Regions from separate parts of the Homo sapiens genome. Here all the other regions are linked to region 1. Evidence: fine-mapped expression QTL. A gene starts in region 1. Each other region holds a variant in brackets. All regions are shown on one strand. Distances are between the middles of the regions. Region 1 holds the start of SLC22A23 (solute carrier family 22 member 23). Region 2 overlaps SLC22A23 (solute carrier family 22 member 23). Region 3 overlaps LOC100507336 (a long non-coding RNA gene). Region 4 overlaps SLC22A23 (solute carrier family 22 member 23).

The links. PIP is the estimated chance that this variant, and not a neighbour inherited with it, causes the effect.
Region 2: its variant is fine-mapped to the expression of SLC22A23 in whole blood (INTERVAL, PIP above 0.99).
Region 3: its variant is fine-mapped to the expression of SLC22A23 in naive CD8 T cells (Schmiedel 2018, PIP 0.95).
Region 4: its variant is fine-mapped to the expression of SLC22A23 in whole blood (INTERVAL, PIP above 0.99).

Annotation. Positions count from the first base shown.
Region 1 is chr6:3,454,684-3,458,734 of GRCh38, forward strand. It overlaps SLC22A23 (solute carrier family 22 member 23), which reads right to left and starts at 2,367. Exons shown (of 10, transcript NM_015482.2): 1 at 1,223-2,367. The coding sequence starts at 1,876. It overlaps LOC643327 (a long non-coding RNA gene), which reads left to right and starts at 1,020. Exons shown (of 2, transcript NR_147844.1): 1 at 1,020-1,568. RefSeq lists silencers at 2,135-2,364, 2,425-2,644.
Region 2 is chr6:3,357,083-3,361,133 of GRCh38, forward strand. All of the region lies in intron 3 of SLC22A23 (solute carrier family 22 member 23), which reads right to left. Among named protein-coding and RNA genes, the nearest start is that of SLC22A23, 98 kb to the right of the region's middle. The variant G/T (reference allele first, on the strand shown) is at 1,619.
Region 3 is chr6:3,626,687-3,630,737 of GRCh38, forward strand. The region is part of intron 3 of LOC100507336 (a long non-coding RNA gene); the gene reads right to left. Among named protein-coding and RNA genes, the nearest start is that of PXDC1, 120 kb to the right of the region's middle. The variant T/A (reference allele first, on the strand shown) is at 2,062.
Region 4 is chr6:3,351,598-3,355,648 of GRCh38, forward strand. All of the region lies in intron 3 of SLC22A23 (solute carrier family 22 member 23), which reads right to left. Among named protein-coding and RNA genes, the nearest start is that of PSMG4, 95 kb to the left of the region's middle. RefSeq lists an enhancer at 1-426. The variant T/C (reference allele first, on the strand shown) is at 2,430.

The sequences.
Region 1 (4,051 bases):
CATTACCTTGCAGGGCAGCAGGGGCAGCTCAGTCAGACAGTTCCCACAGGACAGAGCATTTCTGGCCAGGTTGGTACAAGATTAAAACAATGATTATGATGATGTAAGAGTTTATCTTACACATCCATGAGCTACAACTGTTAACCAATGCACACGGGGGGAGGAGGTTACATGCACATTGACTATTTAAAACTGTCCAATTTCATACATTTCGACAAAGCATTTAAAACTCTGCCAGAACAGCCCAGAATGGGTAGCGGGTGGGGTGGAGGAGAGTCTGTATTTACTTTAAAATGTGAATTAATTAGTTTAGACACAAGGAGCAAAACTACAAATGTCTTGATATCTCTTATATGTTAAGAATAAAATTACAGCTGTCTAGGGGCATTGAGTGTCCACCATTGCCCACTCTGTGTTTAGGCCTTCACACTTGTCTCACAACTCCCTTCTGCTACATTTCACACCACGCAATACCTCTGCAAGGGAGCTTTAGCTACAGGACTCAGAGGACAAGGTGCATGTTTCAGCTAAAGCACACCCCCGTTCTCAGTGCCTCAGCCCAAAGCAGCTGCTGTGTAAGAGCGGTGACGGCCGGGGAACACCCAAATGACATATTCTCCGCGTCCTTCCTATACTGTAGTGATGTTTACTGAAGTGCTGAGAAAACATGGGAGGAGACACTGGGGTAGCAAAGCCTAAAGTCAGATATCTTTGGGGAGGACTAAGCATCGGCTGCGGGTTGGGGATTTGCAGGAGTCTTTGCTTCTCTGGCTCTCCAGTTCTTTAGTAGGCTTTACCTGTGTCAAAATCAAGTGCGAGATGGAAGACTATTGCTTTGTGGGAGACCCAGGGACAACTAGCCGGGCAGAACAGGGCTGTGGTCCCGACTCCCCCAGCAGACCTTGAACGACGCCAGTCCGACTCCTCCAGAGGGGGCTGGTGACAGGTCAGCTGCCTCGCCCCGAGGGTGGGGGAAGGGCGCGCTTTCCATCCGCGTACTGGGACAGGAGTTTGGGTGCAAACTAGTAAAGGCTATGGTGCTCCCTTTACACCCAAGTAAAGGCATGTGGTTTGGGGGACGGAAGGAGATTAAGCCAATGCGGAATGCCCTACACACACTCTAGCACCACCACTTTGGGGACTTCGGTTCTCCCGCTGGCTCGGGCTTGGACCTCGGTCTGCAGGGAGAGGGTTGGAGGGACTGGGCGGCTGCGGCCCTTACCTTGCTGACCACGTTCTGGACGAGGCCGGCGCGGATGCCGTAGTCCCATGCGCGGCAGTCACAGTTGGAGGCGTTGTCCCCCTTGTCCGGAGGGGATGGCAGGGGTGGTGTGTCGCCTCCGTCCGCGCCGCTGCTGTTGCTCCGGTTGCCCGCAGCCTCCCAGGGGGCAGTGGCGAAGGGGGTGGTGGGGAGGCTGGTCCAGTTGCCCATGTCCCCGCCCCGGCCTGTGGTGGTGACCCCTGCCAGCTCGGTGCCTTTGCCGGCCCCGCGGCACCAGAAGTTGGGCTGGTCCAGGAGGAACGAGTCCGAGAACTGGCTGAAGCCGATGAACAGCGCCGGGATCCAGGTGAGCAGCACGAGGGTCTTCTGATAGCCCCCGCCCAGGCCCCCGAGGAAGGGCAGCACCGACCCGTCATAGTCCAGCAACAAGAGGCTCGGGGCCGCAGCCGCGGAGCAGCAGCTCGGGTGCGGGCCGCCTCCAGGATGCAGTGGGGGCAGCGGCTGGATCTCCGCGCCGCCGCCGGGGCCCGCGCGTCCCCCGAGGGGCGCCGAGGCCGCCGCGTCCCCGGGCGGCAGGGAGCCGTTCTCCTCGGCCGGGGCCGGCTGCCGCCCAGGCCCGCCGCCCGCCGCCTCGCGCCGCCGGTCTATGGCCATGGCCCGGGCCCGCGGCTCCCGCAGAGGCGCATAGAGCGCGGCGGAGGCTCCGCGGGCGCCCCGGGCACAGCGCGCCGGGCCAGGCGCCTGCAGCCGCTGCCGCCGAGGAGGGCCCGCGGCTCGAGAGAGAGCGCTCGGCGGCTCCGGGTGCGTCAGGCCGCCCCCATGTCACCCGCCGGACCCCGCGCCCCGGGCGCTGCGGCCCCGCTCGGGCGCCGGGCAGAGGCGGGCAGAGGCCGGCCGGGCCCTCAGCCGCCGCGGCTCATCAGTTCCGCGGCCCGGGCGCCGGCTGCCGAGCCCGCCGCTCTCCGCTGCTCCGCGCCGGACGCGGCAGGAGGAGGAGCCGGCGCCGCGCCCGGCCCGCGCCCTTGCCGGCGGTTCAGGGCCCTGCGGGCGGCGGTGCGGGCAAAGGCTGCTGCTCCCGGGGTGGCCGCGCTGTATTTCTCCGACTTCGGGCGCCTCCCGGAAGCCGCGAGCTCTGGACCCAGCCTGCCGAGCCGGCCGCGCTCTCCAGCTCCTGGAGCCGGCCCCACTCCTCCTCCTCCTCCTCCTCCTCCCCCTCCTCCCTGCCCCCCGGCCCGCCCCCTCTCCCCCCGCCGAGGTGGAGGTAACCGCGGCACCTGCTGCGCTCGGCTCCTGCTCGCGAGCGCCCCCTCCAGCCCGGACGCGCGGCCGCCGCCGCCCGGGATCCACGGGAGGGGGGCGGGGGAAACGGGACACCCCGGGCCCGCCTGGCTGGAGGATCCCCTGCCCGTTGCCCGTTTCGCGCCGGGCGGGGCGGGGGAGGAGGAGACGCGCGTAGCAGGGGTCGCCGGCCGGCGACGGGTCCCGGCAAAGTCGGCGTGCGCTGAGAACGTGTGGGCCGGGTCTTCTCTGAGGCTGGGCTCCCGCAGCCGCGCGGGCCCCCCACCCACTCCGCGCGCGCCAGGTCTCCGTGACCTCTGTCTCTTCAGAGGTGCCCGGCGGTCCCGCTGCCCGCGCCCCGCTCCCAGTCCCAAGCCCGAGGGTCTTCAGCCTTCGGGAACAACCCTCTGCGCTTTTTCCAGGAGCGAATAAGGTTGATTTTTGTGTCCGTGGAGCAGGGTCAAGGAGGCGCCTTTGCCAATTTCAGGTCGCCAGTCCCCCGCAGTGTCTGGCCACCTGCGACCCGCCGCACCCACTCCCAAATCGCCATTTCTTCCCCCACTCCTAAGTGCATGCGATGTAAGCACGATGCTGGGATATATCTCCAACACAAGTTATAATACACACAGTATAAACGTGATGGCATTCCCCACCCCCTCCCTAAGATCTTGTATTCACGTTTGGAACGCCGTGTGCACAGGCGCACACATCTATACTCTCACACAAGAAGACAAACCTCTCCCTCCTCTCCTGCTCCAGCGCCAACCTTGCCCAGCCAGCGCTGTATAAATAACACCAGCCCTGCGGCAAACGGCTACATTAGCATATTTCCTCCTGCACCCAGCGCACGCACCAAAGAGAATTATCCGGCACCTTTCAACCCAGCGTCCCCACATTTTGGAGGCATTTCATATTCTGAGAAGTTTATTAATGGAAGTCTTAAATGGAGCAATCCATTTCTAGTCTTATTTGGGGCAAAAAAAAAAAAAATGTTTAGCTTTCCAAAAGGATATATTCTAAGCTCCATATACTGAATGTATTCTTTTGCATTTTCATTATTTGCTCAGCTAACCGCTGCACAATTTAGTGGAATACATTTTTAACCTGCAGTTCAGTGTTAAGGGCAACATGTGTTTACTGCATAAAATGCTGGCACATACGTACCAGAGAACTATTTCTGAAGGCTGCCGGGGGGCGGGTCTTGGGGGACAGGGGAGGTTGTGGACCTTCCTGCGTGGCCGAGAAGGGGTGATTAGATAACAATGGGCGGAAGGGGCCCTAAGGGCTGCAAAAGACACCAGACCGCTGAGAAATGGGTCTGGAAACCACATATATAAAGAGCTGGGGGCTTGGGGCGGGGGGGGACACGATAGTGCACGTTGTGTACGTGGTAATTTTTCAACTTCACATTATTTATTAGCTTAACTTTTCTTTTCCTTCCCTCTCCTCCCCTCATTTGAAGAGCTAATACATGCAAAGTTCTGACCTCCATGCCTGGAACAGAGTAAGTGCGCAATGAATGTTAGACATGTATTATTACCAGTGCTCCTC
Region 2 (4,051 bases), 98 kb before region 1:
AACCCAAAACAAGGCAGGCACTGTAATGAAATGCTCACATTTACTCCAGTGCCCACATCTGCATTCCCAGAGTCTCAGAAATCCAGCAGGATTCCAATGCCATGGAAATATGTATCATTGTTTTTGCCAAACAAACTCCCTTACCTTAAGCAAAGGTCAAGTACACTGTAAAACTCCCAGTGCAAACAACCAGCTGGAGGACTTATCCCAGCCTCTGTAAAGTCTTTGCTAATAATTATCCAGACAGCTTTCCTAATTTTTATTTTTAAATGGGGTTGTGGCTCAGCAATAGTGTAAGGATTAATCGCCTTATCAATTAGCATGAGGAAAGGACTGCAAATACAAAGTAGGTGTGTTCTTCCTGGCTTTCTACCTGCTCAATTAGGCTCAGGTCTTAAATGATTTCCAAAATTGGACTACATCTACTGTGTTTACTTCATTCTAAATATCAAAAAGATATCTAAAAGCTTATCATAAAAAAATTTAGAATTTCCCTTTTTGGTTACCAGCCTAAAAGCTCCTTAGTTTAGGGACTGTGTTCTTATTCAACAAGCCATGCCCAGCTCCTGGTTCACAGAACACACTGAATAATGACAAATAATGGAAAACAGAAGGCGGCTGTGTATAATGAATGCATTTCATTCACTTATTCAGCAAGGAGGATGAGGTAGCACCATGCCAGGGGAGATGCCGAGATGAAGCCACACCACCGGCCTCAAGGGGCTCACAGTCTGATGAAGAGACACGTGCCTATAAGACACAGATGGGGTTCTGTGCTACAGGAATGCAAAGAAAGGGACGAGGCCTGGGGAAGACTTCACCAAAGAAGCAGCATTTGAATCTTCCCTTAAGGGAAAAGGAAGTAGGACTGTCCTGCCATGTGGGTGAGGGGAAGGGAAGAGGCCTGGGAGGAGAGTTTTCAGAGAGGCAACCAGCTCTTGCAAAGGCGGCCAGTGCAGAAGAGGCTAGACAGGTTAGGTTCTCAGTATCAAAGTCCCCAGGATGGAGAGAAATTGGAACCTTTAAACACTGTTGGTAGGGATGCAAAAATGGTGCAGCCATTATGGAAAACAGTATGGCAGTTCCTCAAAAAACTAAAACTAGAACTGCCATATGATCCAGTGATTCTACTTCCAGGTACTTATCCAAAAGAATTGAAATTAGGATCTCAAAGCACTTGACGTGAGCGCTCCCACGTTCACTGCAGTGTTATCCACAACAGCCAAGATATGGAAACAACGCAGAGGTCCACTGATAGGTGAAGGGACACACGAAACACAGTGAAAAATACAATAGAATATGATTCCGCTTAAGAACGAATGAAATTCTGACACGTACGACACGTGGATGAACTTGGAGGAATTATGTTAAGTGAAATAAGCCAGTCACAGAAGGACAAATACTACATGATTCCACTTACATGAGGCATGTAAAAATAGGCAAATTCAGAAAATCAAAGAGTGGGCTGATGGTTGCCGGGGGTAGAGGGAGGGAGACATGGGGAGTTGCTCGTCAACTAGCATCAGCTTTCAGGCAGGCGAGATGAATAAGCTCTGGAACTCTGCTGCACACATTGTGTCTATAGTTCACGATACTGTGCTGTACACTGAAAAAACCT[G/T]TTAAGAGGGTGGGTCTCATGTTAGATGTTCTTACCACAAATAAAATTAAAAAATAAAATAAAAAAGGCCCCAGGAGAGTTTCTGTTTCATCAACCCAAGGAAAACACCGGAAGGAGTCACAGCTCCAGTGAGGAAGAAGTGAGAAGGGATCTGCCATCGGGGGCTGGAGGGATGGTGGGAACCTTTGCCATTTCAAAGGGAAGCCCTGGCTCCCCTCGGGCACAGCATCCTGGGTGGGGTCTGCACCCCGAGCTGCCACCCATTGCATTTCCATGTCAGCGCCATGTCAGGTGCGCTGTGCCGATGTCTAATCAAGTCTCAGTCATTCAGGATGAAGAGAGAATAGGGAATTCAAAATACATAACTGCAAAAATGAAAGCTCCTTTATTAATTTAGTGCAATACAGAGACGTCCCAGAACAACACGGGCTGCATCCAGAATCACAGATCATTTCAACTAAGAAAAAGATGGGCACCGAGAAGGAGAGCGAGGAACATGCCAGCTGAGACTCATTTCATTCTAGGACAGTACTAGAATGAGCATCTCACTGGGAATTCACCGCCCTCAGGCAGATAACAGATGCTGCTAAGCTATGCTAGCTGGTGTTGCCACGTTTATTCTTCATCACTGAGTGGTTCTCCTTAGGTCACACATATAACTATCCATCTGAGTGCAAGTTTAAAACAAAACAAAAACTGAAGAGGACATACAGATGGCCAAGAAGCACATGGAAAGATGCTCAACGTCACTGTCATCGGGGAAATGTACATCACAGCGACAATGTGGTAGCCCTTCACATCCATCAGGATGGTAGCTGCTGTCAAACAAACAGGAAATAACAAGTGCTGACAAGAATGTGGGGAAACTGGAACCCTGGTGCACCAGTACATTCCTGGTGGGAATGTACAACGGTGCAGCCAACTGGAGAAAACAATATCCCTGTTCTTCATAGAATTAAACAGAGGATTACCATCTGACTCAGCAATGCCACTTTTGGGTATAACCCCCCAAAAGTGAAAGCAAGGACCTGAAATGATATTTGCACACCTATGTTCACGGCAGCATATTCACAACAGCCAAAAGGTGGGAGCAACGCAGGTGTCCATCAACAGATGAATGGATAAGAAAATGTGATCCATCCAGAGGATGAAATATAACTCAGCCTTAAAAAGGGAGGCCATATCCAACATATGCTATAGTATAAAGGAAGCATTTTTTCTTTTTTTCTTATTTTCACTTATTTTTGTCCTTAGAGGTCCTTGTTCTGAGGGAATCCTGAAGACATTATGCTAAGTGAAGTAAGCCAGTCACAAAAGGACAAATATTGCATGATCCACTTAAATAGGTTCTTAGGTAGGCAAATTCATAGAAACAGAAAGTAGAAGGGTGGCTGCTCGGGACTAAGGGATGGGAATGGGGAGTGTTTATTGGGGACAGAGTTTGTTTGGGAAGATGAAAAGACCTCTAGAGATGAAGGGTGGTGATGGCTGTGTAAAAATGTGAATTACTTAATGCCACTGAATGGTACAATTAAAAGTAGTTAAAATGGTAATTTTTATGCTATGTTTATTTTACCATGATAAAACAAACACCCCCCTCCAAATAAAACAACAACAAAAAAGGCAAGTCCGTAGTATTGGCCTTTGAGAGCTCTGACCTCAGCTGTGCCCCGCCCACCCATCCACCCAAGGATCCTTAAACTCAGGAGGATCAGAAAGGCTCAATCACCAGGAGGTGAGGTGAGTCACAGAGCTCACTGCATTGCCATTCTTGGGGGCATTTGTCTCATCTGCCTTAAAATACAGAACTGCATTCTCATAGTCGGGTTTCAGGCAACGGCTCAACCGTGGAGGGAGGTCACTTTGGGGCCTTTGCACACATCCGAGTCAACCTCAACAGTCTTAGTCCACACATCTCTGTATTTCCGGTCACTTATTGCTATGCTGACTGCTCATCTAAGCCCCAGATACTGTCCCAGTTATTTAGGAGACAAAGAGGCCCTCAAGCTGGCCTGAGCCCCCAAGGGGTCCTCAGTGATGTCGACACGACAGGTGTGCAGGCACCCCCATGCAGACGGGCCCCTCTGATGGAGACCTGCGTTCGGCCAGGCAGGCCCACAGCTGGCGTGGTCATCCAGGGCGGGAACGGGATTGGACGAAGCCTTCCCTCGGGCAAAGATGCTGGGGTGGGGAACAGGTGCAGCAGGAACAGAAGGTCAGAGCGTGGTACTGGGGTGACGAGAGGCGCTAGCGAACATCAGCAGCTGCGGGGAGCTCGAGGCAGCAGGGATGTCCAGGCCACAGAAGGTGTCCCACATTTTATATTCCTGTTGTTTGTATATTTTCTATTTCTACCCACCCCCCCCATTTTATGCCTGACCCCAAGTTAAACTGCTTAAGGACTTAAGACCCCAACCAGCTGTGACTTAGATC
Region 3 (4,051 bases), 170 kb after region 1:
CAGATGTGGGCATCTCCCTGGCAGGCGGGATGCGTCCCAGCTGAGTCTTCTGTCCTGACTCAGACCAAAGAGCCTTCTCCCTTGACAGGACATCCACTTATTCTGGCAGTTGGAAAATAAATTTTTTTTTCCATTGAATATGGGCATGTCCAGTGTGTGATAATGCTGGACCACCTTGTTCATACAATGCCTAGAGCCCTTAGTGTGGAATATATATAGATATAGATATAAAATATATATATATACATTTTTATTTATATAAAAATTTATATTTATATTTAAATATATATTTTATATATTATATATATTCCACACTAAAGGCTATATATATTATATATTTTATATATAATATAAATATTATATATAGAAATATATATTTTATATATTTATTATATATTTTATATACATATATATATATTTGACAGCAAATATACATATTTGAGACAAGTTGTGGCTCTGTCGCCCAGGCTGGAGTGCAGTAGCGCCATCTCGGCTCACTGCAACCTCTGCCTCCCGGGCACAAGCCATCCTCCCACCTCAGCTTCCCGAGTAGCTGAGACTACAGGCATGTACCACCACACCCGGCTGATTTTTGTAGTTTTTGTAGAGACAGGACTTTTCCATGTTGCCCAGGCTGGTCTCGAACTCATGAGCTCAAGCAGTCCACCCGCCTCAGCCTCCCAAAGTGTTGGGATGAAAGGCGTTAGTGCAGATTATGCTTTATGCTTCCTGAAAATTCTGTAAAACATAATGATTCCCTTTATACATTCTGCAGATTAAAAGAGTTAAACAAGAATAGCCCCATCTTTCCACTGCACTCCCATACTCCCTTGTATATGCATGTGTTGCAGACGTTCCCCTGGGCAGGGCGTGTAGAAGACTCAAGGGCCAATGAGGTTTTTGAGGAGCACGGATGCACCCTTCAGGGCTGTGTGAATGAAGGGGAGGAGTCGGTGAAGAAAACACCGGGAGAAGGTGGTGTCACCGTTGCCAAGCCAAGAGAGGGTTTTGTTGTTGGTGGTTATTTGCTTTTACAAGGAGGGGACACTGCCACAAGATGGTCATAGACTCAGGAGTCAGGCTGCCTGGTTTCTAATCCGCACTCTGTCATCTTGCACAAGTCACTTAGTCCCCATTAGCCTGTTTCCTCACGAGGGAAGGAGGAGAGTAAAAGGACCCATAATGCCAAAAAGATGTGGAGGAGACGCAAAGTGCTGCGAGGTGGGAGCTGTTGCACCTGGCCCCGGGAAGCACCCCTGAGGCTCCCCTTGCAGGCGGTGTTCTCAACAACCTCCAAAAGGCGGGAGGTGACAGGGACAAAACTCCCCATACTGTAACCTCGCTGTTCATGCACAAGCCAGGTCTCCGTAATTAGAACAGGAGTTTCAGGAGGACACAGACAAGGGGGCAGAGACAATGCCTTATTCATACATAATTGGCACTTAATAAATGTTTATGGAACACGTAGCTGAATAGATGAATGGATGAATAATTAATAACAAGGACGACTGCAGCTGAGTGTCGAGTTTTGTTCCCAAATTGGACGCACATGGAAATGAAAGGAGATCTTCATTTGTGTGGTGATTATCTAAGTATTTGTCCTCTCCCGCTGAGGGTTCCAGGAAGCAGGTTGCAGAGGGCAACAGGAACAATGCCACACCTGTATTCCACGGAGGAGGGATGTTCAGGTGTTAGAAAAAGAACCACAGGCAGAGGTCACGCATTCAAAACCAGGAAAAGGGCCAGCGAGGCTTTGCTTTGGCAATGCCAATTATACTTTTTTAGTCCAGAAATATTTAGAGAAGGATTCCCGCATTGTGCTTTTAAAGTCATTTGTTATTAGCGTCACAGAAGTAAAAATATCTACTGGGACATCTGCCCAAACTCCAAAAGACAGGGCTGAGGAGACAATGTGAGTGGGTGTGACTGTGGTTACGTTGAGTAGCTGTATGCTGTACCCGCTGCCACTCAAGCCCCACCAGCAGAGGTGCCCCCAGCTTAATAGCACAGAGAAACCGTTCTTTTCAAAGGGGCCGGGGTTGCTGAGCAGTTTCCTGCCTT[T/A]TATTTAAAGCTTGATTTCCTTTGTAAAAAGCGGTGCATAGGCCAAGAGTGCCTACGATGTATTTTTATTTTTAAATCTTGAACATTTCAAGTTGCATACAAAAGAGGGAGGTTAGAAGGAAGGTGAGGATAGGCAAGGGAGAAACACAGAGTCATGGATGGGCTTGCCAGCGCTGGAAAAGATGATTTAATGAAAGGACCATTAAATGGCAGCCTGGGCTGGTGTCTCTGAGAGTGGAGCCAGGCTGTCTTCCTCATCCAAGCGAGTGCAGTGAGATTCCTGGTATTCCACTTGTAGTTCCCACACACGTCTCATTTCCAAGCACCAGCAGCAGACAGTAGAGAGGAGCTGCCGTTAACATCCCTGTCTCGGAGAGGTGGGTAGGGGGACGCTATCTCTTTCTCAGAGATGCTGGAGAATGACTTGCCTAATTGCCTGCAATATCACTTTCCTGAAACCTATTTCTGATTGCCAAGGGCCTTAGCAAACGGGGGTTCCCACCAGCACTCCCTCACACGTCTTGCGATGTATTAGTACTCGATTTACCCCTTCAGTAAGGTCAATGCAGGTTCTTAAAACAGAGATGATTAAACACAACTGAATCTACTAATTTTTATTTTGCCGTGACAGTGCAGTCCCTTTTAATTTTTACCCGGGCACCTGTGAGTTATTTAGGAAATTTTTGAAATGCCACCTTGTATGAGAGAAGCTACTTAGGTGTTTCAGCATCTCTTCAGAAGCCACCGTGGAACTTTCCAAGAATAAATTAACACATGCATATATTTTCTCTTCCATAAAGATAAAATGCAAATGAAGAAAATCCAATTCAAATTAGTTTAGGCAAAAGAGCAAGTTAATGACTCTTGCTATCAAGGACAGACATAGAGTTAGCTTCAGGGATGACTGGATCCAGGATTCAGATGTCCCAGGCTCCCCTCTCTCCCTCTCCTTTGTGCTTCTCTCTATATTGTAACCCATCCCAGTTCCACTCTAAAAATTCTAGAAATGGGCCGGGCACGGTGGCTCATGCCTGTAATCCCAGCACTTTGGGAGGCCGAGGCAGGCAGATCACGAGGTCAGGAGATCGAGATCATCCTGGCTAAGATGGTGAAACCCCGTCTCTACTAAAAACACACACACAAAAAAATAGCCTGGCATGGTGGCGGGCACCTGTAGTCCCAGCTACTCAGGAGGCTGAGGCAGGAGAATGGCGTGAACCCAGGAAGCAGAGCTTGCAGTGAGTGGAGATCGCGCCACTGCACCCCAGCCTGGGCGACAGAGCGAGACTCCGACTCAAAAAAAAAAAAATTCTAGAAATGGACCTTTGCCACCTGGGATCAGAAGCCCACCCCTCAGTTAATCACTAAACCATGGAGGCGATGTGAGAAGATGGTGTCTGCTACCCCTATCATAACACAGAGGAGAGGAAAGCCTAAGAGGAGAAAAGTGCAGGGCAGACAGAGGAATAATTGTCTTGTAGTACCCACATCTCTCCATTCTGCATTTTTGATGTTTTGACATGTTGGGGCTTTGCTGACCCTAGAGGGACTGTTCCCCACTCCACCCCAGGACTAGCTAATCTGTGGAGATGGCAAACAATTACACTACTAACACACCTTTCACATACAAACCAGCTAATCCCAAATCCACGCCTCCAACCAACTCCCTTATCAGGACCTCACACTCAGGGCCAGTATTTGCCTGCCCTGAGCCCCCAGGGCCATTAACCAGGGACAGCCCCTATGGCCCAGAGCTCTGAAATTATTCAGCCTGGCCCCATTCCTAAGCCCATGCACCCTGCCTCCCTGTTCCTCCCTGCAGAAACCACAATAAAAGCTTTTGCCCAGGATTTCCTCTGCTCTGTCTGCCCCCTGACCAGCCTTGGTGCTTCCTCATGTGGCCCTGCATGGCAGGCTGTGTTTCCTGTTTCTAGGGATCTGTGAGCAGAACAAACTTATTCATGGGAATCATCTCTATGTCTGTGTGTGT
Region 4 (4,051 bases), 100 kb before region 1:
CCCTCCCACTGCTCTGGAAACCTCTCTCCCCTCGACCTTTCCTGGCTTTCGCCTAAGAACACGTCACTGGCCACTTCAAAGATTCTGTAACCCATCTCCTCCCCCAGCCACACTGTACCACAGGGTGGGCCCTATGGAGCCATATTTCTGCTATTTGGTATCAAAACTGTCCCCGAGGAGACTTGCTACTTCATTCAGGACTGAGCCAGGAAACCCAGGTTTCTAATGCATTCTCATCAAATGTACATGACCCCCAGGTGAGCAGGAGGATGGGCAGCAGGGCCAAGGCCTGAGCTGCTGCAGTCATGGGGACCACCTCGAGGCAGATGGAGTTCCCATCTAGGCCACACCAAACAGGAGAGCAGGGAGGGATGCTCTGGGTGGATGACTGTCCACCACCCGACTGGTAAGGCTGCTCCGTTTCTGAAATGGGCGTCAAGGCGAAAGCACTCCATGGCCTCCCCTCCCCAGGCAGGGCTGCTGGAGTGCTGAGAGGTGGCAGAGGCCATGGCAAAACCAGGCCCACCAGGACCACAGATAAGGAAGGGAGGAACAGGGCAGGTTGTGGAAGGAGATGTGAGAGTGCCTCTTGTCCTGCTGCTCTGACAGTGAAAACCACGTACACGGACATGTACAGACACACAGACACTCACAAACATACACACACAGACATGCACACACACACACACACACAGCCATAGACACTTACAAGCATGCACACACAGACATGCACAGACACACACACACACAGCCACAAACACAAGCACATACAGACATGCACAGACACACTCACACACAGACACAGCCACAGAAGCTCACCGGCATGCATGCACAGACACACACAGACACATATTGACCCATTCACATACACGGCCACATACACACATAGGCATACTTGCAGACACACAAATACACAGACAGAGAGAAAGAGAGCAGGTGAGCACACACCAAGCCCCGGCCATAACAAAAGGGAGAAAAGGCTCTGATCTCTGCCATTCTTGTTTTTCCATCTGAAAATGAGAAACCTGCTACTGGGACTCACCTGAATCATGGAAAATGGACTCACTTGAGTCCTTAAATCATACTCTCACAGCATATGAAAACTGCCAAGCTTCCTGGAGGTCTGAGGATAAATGGTGTCGCTTACAGGTGTTCAAAAAGCAGAGAAATGACAATTCTTTAATTAATCTGAGTGAAGGAAAAGCACATAGTGCAAACCCAGAGCCAACAGCAGTTTAGAGACGCTCCCTGGATACGCATGGACAAGCCGCGTGCCCTGCAAACACCCGGGAGAAGATCAGTCGCCCCCGTGACCTGCACCTTGCTACCAGAACCCCCAGTGGTCAGCTTGTCCCAACAGGACTTTGTTGCTGAGGAACAGGGTCAAAATATGTATGAAAATACTACAGTGATTATATTCATTTTTTGCCTGAAATTTTAAGTAAGACTTTTTACCCTGTTCTTCAGCAACGACCAGACCGTGTCAAGAGATGCAAAGTCTCACCTGTGAGTGCTCCGCCTAATCTAAAATTACATGTAAGTATTATTACTTCCCTGCTCACAGGAATAATCTGTTATTCTTGGAGATTTTGAAGGCAAGATGGCAAAGGGCCATAAAAGGCACATAACTGTGGGCCTTTACCTGGCTGCTTAAACCAAAACCTGGTTTTCCAGCATTTGAACAAAAAAAGGGAAACTCCGTCTGTGTTAGATTTCCTATACCACAGCCAGCTCCCCAATGAAGAGGTGCTGCCTGATTCTCCCAGCTGCCAATCTTGCCCTCTTCTACAGCATTTTAGTTAAAATAACTTCCTGTGTCTCAACATCTGGCTTGAGCGGTTTGGCTTCAGGCCTGAATCCCACTCAATGGGAAATGCCGTGACCCTCATGCTGGGATTCACGATGTCACCTGCTTGATTGAGGTGTTCATTATGCTTTACAAAATCACATGTATAAGACTATTAGGAAAACAGTTCAGCTGCAAATCACAAGACTAGGGCTACTGGAATTTTTGCTCCCAAATCACTAGATCAGTCAACCACTGCCTTTCCAGGTAAAGGGCTGTGCTCGCCTCGTCCCATTACCGAAGCTGTGATGTGGCTCTTCTGCCCTGTGCACTGCCACCCAAATGTACTCACGTGATTTCTGGCTTCCAGGGCTGCTGTTCCCAAGAGCTCCCTCCTCAGGAAGCCACACCATTCCCCCACCTTCTTAGTAGAGGCAGACTCTCCCTTCTACCACCAGTGTTTCCCAGGACCCCAGTTCTGGCCCAGAGCATGACAGCATCGAGGAAGCCTCATGCAGAGGCTCCTTACAGATCCCAGACTACCAACTTTTCCAGGTCTCCTATGCGTGGGCTGCTTTACTTTCTCTAAGAAGGCACAAGGAAAAATGCTGGTCCTTGGGTCGGTTGACTGAATCCTTTGATG[T/C]GACAGGTAGCTAAGCCACTTATCTGGACCCATAAACCTCCTTGGCAGGCCTGATTGGATTGTGGAAATTTCGATGGTGATCACATGTGTTTTCTCCTTAGAGTTGGCATGGCCAAGACAAGAGCCACATGCAACTTCTAAGCAAAACACACACACAGGCTCACACAAACACATAGCATGGTGCACTCCCAACGGAGAGGCAGTCAGGGCATTGGATGGGCAAAGACACTCCTTTCAGGACCCTTCAAAGGTAAATTCAACAGGAAGTGCACATTTACGGAGGAGCAAGTGACTAAAGGCACTCACAGACTTTTCCTTCTCTTGACTTGTGTACCTTTACATCTTTACATGAGGTGGGTTGGGTAAACAAAAGAAAATCTCAAGAAGATTCAGATTCTCTTTCCATGTCCCTGCTGCATTTAATAAGTTCCTCGATTGTAGTGACCACTGTACTGTGGTCAGATCCATCGATATAGCAGAGACTCTGTGCCTCAAAGGCAAGGCAATGTCTTTCCATCCTCAAGAGACCCAGCATCCAGCAGGCACTCAAGAAAGGATGGGTGAACCATTTATTAGTGGGTAAAGCAATGGATGAACTGAAACACAGTCTGTTTTTAGTTGATGTCCCAGTAAGAGTGTTAGGGGGAAGTCAAGGTGTTGGAGGGGTTGCTCTAGATTTCAATGATCCACACCATCTCTAATTTCTTACTAATTAATCAAATAGTGAATGTCTAACAAATGGGGAAGGTACTATGCTGGGCCAAGTAGCCATGTAATGGGTTTCTGAATCTCATAATTCAACATCATCTTCTTCAACTGACACTTGTCTTTCCAGGTCAATTAAGCAGGCAGCCTCATTAGTTCATGGGTAGACAACACGCAGAACAGACAAAGCAGGACCTGAGGGCCAGAGGGTGACAGTATCTAACTCTGCCCCTAAAAGCACAAGGCATTTGGACAATTTGTGCTACACTCTTTCCTTTAAACAGGCAACAGGAAAAACAATAAAAGATATTCCTACTACCGAGTTTATAAAAACACAAACAAAAAAAACCAGCGCCTCTCCACATGGCAGTATTCAAATCCTTATCTTTGGGCTCCTACCCTCTATCTGCTTGGAAACAGCTCCCTGTCTTTGTGGCCGCCACCCTCCCCAGCTAAAAAAAAAAAAGTCTCCCTCCAAATACTATCCAGTAGCTCTTCAAATAAAATGGGATGAATAGAGAGGCCTTGATAACCACCAGTTTTCTCATCTTCAAACTGGAAATCAGAAATAATATCAGTAAAGACATCGACTTATTAGGTACAGTGAGAAGCCTTTGAACTTAAAAGACGGGAGGAAGACAAGCATGCTGCTCGTGGGTTCGTCACACCCTGTTCTATGCAACAAAGCAACCCTCCCTGGGTCGAGAAAAAAAATCTCCATGATGATCTCTTAGAAATATAAATGTATTTATAGATAGATATTTTCCCTCTTACCATGTGTATAAGAGAACAGGACGTTGCTGGGCAGAGGGAAGTTATTGTGTGAAGGCCAAGGTCATAACAAGGTTACCGTTCTCATGAGTCTGGGCTAGGTCTGGGCCCTCCCGCCCCGCTCCCTGTATCAGCCCCACTCCCAG